2 separate regions of the Homo sapiens genome follow, and region 1 is reported to be linked to region 2. The links are microRNA targets in miRTarBase. Many come from high-throughput screens and were not tested one by one. Region 2 holds a microRNA gene; the other region holds the end of a gene's coding sequence.
Evidence for each region. The annotated mature microRNA hsa-miR-6782-5p reads UAGGGGUGGGGGAAUUCAGGGGUGU and lies in region 2 at 1,896-1,920, opposite strand. An mRNA with a match to its seed (bases 2 to 7 or 8) in the 3' UTR can be bound and repressed. Matches are read on the target gene's strand: a 7mer-m8 pairs with bases 2 to 8, a 7mer-A1 pairs with bases 2 to 7 and ends in A, and an 8mer does both.

Region 1 (3,000 bases), not on the chromosome of region 2:
TTGTAGAAACACATATAGAGGCATTTAAAGACATCTTATTTGATATCATACTATTGGTTGTTTTTAACCTTTTAAAAAATTACTTTGTAATATTGTCACTCCAATTCAAATATTTTTCCCCAACTACTTTGTGATAAAAGCAGTTAAATTTCCCAAAGTAAATAAAAACTCCTTGCCTATATAAAAACATGTGAAAGCTGAAAGATAGTGAACATTTGGCTTAAAATATTAACAACTTTATTGCTTTCTCCCCCTATTCCTAGTTGCTGGGCATATTGGATTTTACCCATCATAGGCGCTGTTCTCTTAGGTTTCCTGTACCGCTACTACACATCGGAAAGCAAATCCTCCTGAGGAGGCCTTGCTGAAGTTAGAAAGTGCATCCACTTTGGGGCGAAAACTAGAGACTTGCTTGGGGGCTGCAGAAGTGCCCTCTCCTCGAATCCTGCCAGTTGCATTCTTCCCCCTTGGAGCCAAGACGATTGGCCAGACATCACCTCAGATCTGAGACCAGCGTCTTCCATCTCTCAGAGCCTTACTCCCAAAGTACCTGCTCACTGTTCCGTGTTGAACAATTGCCGGTGTTTCCTCTCTTCACTGGTTTCCATGAGTACCCTTATATTTCACAACTTTCTGTTCATAAGTTATAGTGACATTGCTCTTTGGTAAAAATGCCTGCTTTCCAATACTTTGATTGCATATTAGACATTCTTAACAGGGCGGCAGTCTAGTGTTGAAAGTTTTATTTTTCCATTTTTCTTTTAAGTAAATTTTTTTTAAAAAATTCTGATTTAGGGCTAGGTGTGGTGGCTCAGGCCTGTAATCCTGGCACTTTGGGAGGCCAAGGTGGGAAGATCGCTTGAGGCCAAGAGTTCAAGACCAGCCTGGGCAACATAGCGAGACCCCTATCTGTATTAAAAAAAAATCTGATTTAATTCTTTTATTTATCATAAGGGGTTTAATTCCTGAAGTAAAGGTTTGCACCTATTAAACTTAAAACTGCCAAATGATTTTTGTTCTTTTATGTGCGTGATAAAAATACAAAGAATGGTGTGGCCACCTCCTCCCTTTCAAGCTAGGGCAGCAGGTAGCTCTTCCCAGCCCCTGAGCCCAGCCCCTTCCCAAGTGGTGCCGGACAAAAAACTACATGGCCCTTTCGTGTCTTGGGGGTGGAAAGGTAGGGATGAATTGGGGTGATAGAACCCTGGTGAATTCAGAGTAATCTTTCTTTAGAAAACTGGTGTTTTCTAAAGAAACAGGATAGGAGTTTAGAGAAGGCACCAAAGCTTTCACTTTGGTTTGGCACCAGTTTCTAACCATCTGTTTTTTCTACCCTAGCTATCTTTTATTGGTAAAATATAAATGTATAATTATGTTTGTAGAGCTTTACCAAGGAGTTTCCCTCCTTTTTTGTTTGTTGATTAGCAAATTTTTGATTCTCCATTTTCCAAAAGTAAGAGACTCCAGCATGGCCTTCTGTTTGCCCCGCAGTAAAGTAACTTCCATATAAAATGGTATTTGAAAGTGAGAGTTCATGACAACAGACCGTTTTCCATTTCATCTGTATTTTATCTCCGTGACTCCAACTTGTGGGTTTGTTCTGTTTTTCCATGAGAATAAAATACTGGCGGTTTTTTTCTCAGATGTGTGTTCATTGAGAAGTAGGTTACTAGAATTATGTTACTGTGTCTTATTGGTTCAATGATGATTTCTCTGGCATATTAGACTTTTATTTTTTCCCCCATGGAAGCACTTGAGGAAATAAATAGTACACTGGCTGTTTTCTGCCAGCAACTGTGGTGATTTTTCTCCCTGTCCTTTGAGAATTGCTAGTCTGCTTCTGAGCCATTGTCATATCCAGCAGGGAGCAGCTTGGTTCAAGAAGGACCATAGAGGCTGCTCAGCATCTCCTCCCTCCCTCCCAGCTTGCCAGGGATTTGATGAGACAGGAAACTGCCCAGCAAACCAGGGACTGCCCATGTAAACTATTTAAGAAAAAGTTCAACCCAGGTCTTGTATCCTGTGATTTAGCAGTTGAATGAATACAGAATTCATCAAAATAATATTAACCTTGTACTTGCACACTTGGATATATTTGGGAGTAATTTTAGGAGATTTCTGGCTGACTTTTATTATCAGGGATATGGGTTTAGTAAAGCTTTTATCTTTAGAAAAATGTTTGTATGCATTATAAGATGCTACTTTTAAGACAATATTGAAAAAAACTTTGGTTATTATTTAACAAAAGTGGTATGACTTGATGCTTCTCTATTTAAAGGCAAGGAAGGATTGGTATATGATTGCCTGTAATAAATAAATTGCGTGATTATTGGAGTACATTGGGGTAAAAGTAAAGAACAGAGGAGTATTGAGGAGCTTGAAAGGGAACATTCAAACTAAAGCCAAGCCTGAAGATAACTTGAATCAGTTGTAAAAGTGTGTTGGCAATGTCCGAAATTGAATGAAAAACATCTGGCTTATAAGAAATGTTAAAGAACTACCATCTTAAGTAAAATTGGTGTTTTTGTTATTTTTAAGGTAAATGCCAATGCAAAAGGTATGTTTTTCTACTTCACATTGGTTTTCTTTTCCTGTTTACATCTGCACTTGTTTTTTGCTGAGAGCCAGAGGAAAAGATAATTAGACTTTGTCTCTTCCACCCATGAAATCCCCCAGTACCCAGGGCTTCTTCTGAACTACTGCCGATGTGATGTCACTTTGTATCTGGAAAATCACTTTGGGGTCCATTTACTGTTATTTTGTTGCCTACAAAAACAGCCAGGTGAAAGCTAAATCTTGTGTGAGAGTTTGCAGAGGTTTTTCTATACAATAAAGTAGTATAGCACACTAGCCAAATCCATCCAAAAGGACCTTTTTTTTAGGAAGTAGACTTGAATTCACAAAACAGTCTTGACATGGGTAGCTGGTGAAAAACCCTCTGGAGAGCAAGTGGAGCCAGTCCCCATTGGCTGACAGTGCCACCTGGAGCTGGTCTCTGGG
Region 2 (3,526 bases):
TGCAGACTTCTTGCCCAGCTGTGGGGTTGGGGGAGGAGGGAGCAGACCTGAGAAATTAAAGGAAATAGGGGGTGGTGGGAGGATTCAAGGAAGGCTGGAGGGATGTGTAAGTTAGGAGCTCCCAGCACATTTCTTGAAGCCCAGGTTCTGAGCCTGGGGTGGCCAGGCTTGGCCTCTCAGATGAACAGGGGAGACCTTTTCCATCAAATACAAGCTTTAAGCTTCACACCATCTTGCCTGCCTTTCCGCCTTCCTGCTGGACAATGGAGACCAGCAGCTCGGATGCATGTGACTCTGGCAGAGGGAGCCTGGTCTGGGAAGCATCCGAGAATGGCTTCAGCACACTCCCCCTAATGGAATCAGAGACTGGGCAAAACAGAGGATGTGGAGAACGGGGCAGCCTCAGCCTGCTCCCACCAGGGTCAACATCTCCCGGCCCTCACCGACCCTTTTTCCAGATTCACAACAAACTGATGTGGGCTCTAGGACAGACCCCTTTACACACACACACACACACTCACACTCTTTTGCACACATCCACAGCTGCACCCATGCTATGTACAGGAACACACATACACATACTCTCTTCCACATACATCAAGACCATTTTTAAAAGGTTCCAAATCTACCCCTAAACCCTCCCTCTCCCAGAAATGACAACAGAGACGGCAGCCGAGATCGGTAGGAAACGTCTCGTTGACAGCTCAGAGCTTAAAAAAAAATATATACACATATATAAAAAACACTTCTGCCCCCTCCCCCATGAACGGGTCCAGGCAGCTCCTTCCTGCAGGGGGCAGGGGAGAGGGCCACCAGGGCAGTGCCTGTTTTCTTGAAGGCACCGACCCTCCTCCTCCCCATGTTCCCTGCCTCCAGTTCCAATGCAGGGGTCCAGGTGGCAGGCCCCTCTGGGAAGGAATGGGTCTTCCCCAAGCTTCCACCCCACCTTGGATTGGGCCGCAGGTGTGGAGGGCCTCATCAAACTCTTTGGGACCCCCCACCCCCACTCTCCGGTCCATTGTCCATGCCGGAACCGCAAGTGCAGAAGTGGGTGGGGTGGGCCAGGCTGGTCCGGTGCTGGCTTAGTCTGATAGTTGCTGTCCCTGGAGGAGGACCCCCAAGGGCTGATGTCTCTGAGGCTGCAGAGTCCTGGCCTGGGCTCCTCCAGCCCCCTACCCCCACCGTATTTTTTTTTTTTTTTAAAGAAAGAAAGAAAGTGGGGGAGGCCAGGGGGGCAAGGGACAGAACATGGGGGAGAAACAAAGGTGGTCAGTTGGGGAGGGGAGCTCCTGGGCTCTCCCTGGCTGCCCTGGGGTGGGGCTGAGCCTCAGTTGGAGTCAGAGTCTGAGGAGTCCCCTGAGGAGGAGGAGCTGGAGCTGCTGCCCTCGGACTCATTATCTTCATCCTCATCGTCATCCTCGTCGTCGTCTTCGTCCTCGTCATCCTCTTCATTCTGGGGGGTGAGAAAGGATGTGGAGTCACCAGGTGGCCCTCCTGGCAGGACTCCCCTCCCCTCCCACTGTGCCCTGTCTGCCCCACCTCATCCCCATCCTCGCTCTCGTCCTCGCTGCTGGACTCAGAGGAGTCGCCGCCATCTTCAGAGGAGTCCCCATTCTCATCATCTTCCTCTTCTTCATCCTCGTCCTCGTCATCCTCATCCTCTTCATCATCCTCCTCGGACTCCTTGGAGGGATGGAGGCACATCAGTGGTCTCTGGTCTCTGCCCAACCATTCCAGGCAGTGCCCCCCGCCCCACGCCCCTGCATCTGGGAGGGGCTCCTTACCGACTTGGACTGCAGAGTAGTCCGGCTGGATTTGGGGTTTGGGCCTCGCAGCTTGGTCATGCTCTTACGTTTCTGCAGGATGGGGACACAAAGGTGGCAGCCATGAGTTCGACACCCCTGAATTCCCCCACCCCTACCCCACTGCTGCTCTGCTCCCAGACTCACATTGGAGATGTACTCTTTATATGCTGCACGGTCCTGGGGAGACAGGCTCTGGGGGAGACAGAAGCGGCAAGGGTTGGAACATAGCCAACTACTGCTGACTGAGCATGCTGGCCCAGTGCTAGGCAGTGGGCTGAGCATTTATATATCATCACCCCATCTTACCCCTCCCAGGCTCCCTAGATTTTGGGTCTCTGCAGAGAGCCCCTGGGATCTGAGAACACAGCTCTAATTTTTTTTTTTTTTTTTTTTTTTTTTTTGAAACAGGGTCTTGCTCTGTCACCCAGGCTGGAGTGCAGTGGCACAATCTCAGCTCACTGCAGCCTTGACCTTCCCAGGCTCAAGTGATCCTTCCAACTCAGCCTCCAGAGTAGCTGGGACTACAGGCATGTGCCACCACACCATGCTACCTTATAATTTTTTGTAGAGACAGCAATCTCACTATGTTGCCCAGGATGGTCTTGAACTCCTGGCCTCAAGTGATCCTTCATACCTTGGGCTCCCAAAGTGCTAGGATTACAGGCGTGAGCCACTGCGCTGGCCCAAACCCTAGTATTTCTGCTTCTGATACCCAGAGTCCTTCTCTAAACCACTAAGACTATTGGTTTTCACATTTTCCCTGTTGCTTTTCGCAAATGGAAGCTCCTATCAGAGTCTTCCTCACTCCAAAGAAGTGCCCCCGTGATGAGTCAGCCTGGCATCATCAACCACACCCCAACACCAAACCCTTGAGCCATCGATGAGGCAGTGGGGCTCACCAAACTCCTGAAACAGCAAATCCCCACAGTCTTCCTGGGTCCTTGGCCAACCTGCCTTGGTGAGTGGGAAGGACACAGGTGATTCTCTCCACTTTACAGATCTGACTACTCAACCAAAGCACAGAGGGGAAGCACAAAGGCCAGGAGTCTAGGAGAGGTCCCGTGGTCCCAGATGGGGGAGGAAAAGGCAGTCTGATTTGGATTCTTCTACTTACTGTGTGACCTTGGGCAAGTTACTTAACCTCTCTGAGCCTTGGTTTCCTTATTTTTAAAAGGGTGATAGTGGCTGCGGACGGTGGCTCAAGCCTGTAGTCCCAGTGCTTTGGGAGGCCGAGGTGGGCGGATCACATGAGGTCAGGAGTTCGAGACCAGCCTGCCCATCTCTACTAAAAATACAAAAATTAGCCAGGTGTGGTGGTACATGTCTGTAGCCCCAGCTACTCTGGAGGCTGTGGAAGGAGAATCGCTTGAACCTGGGAGGTGGAGGTTGCAGTGAGCCGAGACTACACCACTGTACTCCAGCCTGGGCAGGAGAGCAAGACTGTCTCAAAAAATAAAAAAAAAAATAAAAATAAAAGGGTGATAGTGACCGTTATCCTGAAGGATTGCGAGGGCATGGAATGAAATCATGAATGAGACCAGCCAGCACAAGTGGGTGGATGGGCCAGGCTAGGATGGTGCTGGCTTAGTCTGATGCCTCTCTGTTCCTTCCAAGGGTCCCTTGCCCTCTCACCTTAACCCAGAGGTCCAGGTGCACCTTGTACTGCTTTTGCTGCTCCTCGGCCAGCTTTTTGTAGTGCTCCTTCTGGCTCTGGGAGATGC

Region 1: the mRNA of CYB5B is a reported target of hsa-miR-6782-5p. Seed matches in the 3' UTR shown: 7mer-A1 at 902-908.

Annotation. Positions count from the first base shown.
Region 1 is chr16:69,462,167-69,465,166 of GRCh38, forward strand. It overlaps CYB5B (cytochrome b5 type B), which reads left to right. Exons shown (of 5, transcript NM_030579.3): 5 at 264-3,000. The coding sequence ends at 354. Among named protein-coding and RNA genes, the nearest start is that of CYB5B, 39 kb to the left of the region's middle.
Region 2 is chr17:44,205,915-44,209,440 of GRCh38, forward strand. It overlaps MIR6782 (microRNA 6782), which reads right to left and starts at 1,925; the gene lies at 1,857-1,925. It overlaps UBTF (upstream binding transcription factor), which reads right to left. Exons shown (of 21, transcript NM_014233.4): 17 at 3,438-3,526; 18 at 1,950-1,997; 19 at 1,785-1,856; 20 at 1,540-1,683; 21 at 1-1,453. The coding sequence ends at 1,328. All of the region lies in intron 1 of ATXN7L3-AS1 (ATXN7L3 antisense RNA 1), which reads left to right. RefSeq lists enhancers at 1,049-1,549, 2,191-3,390.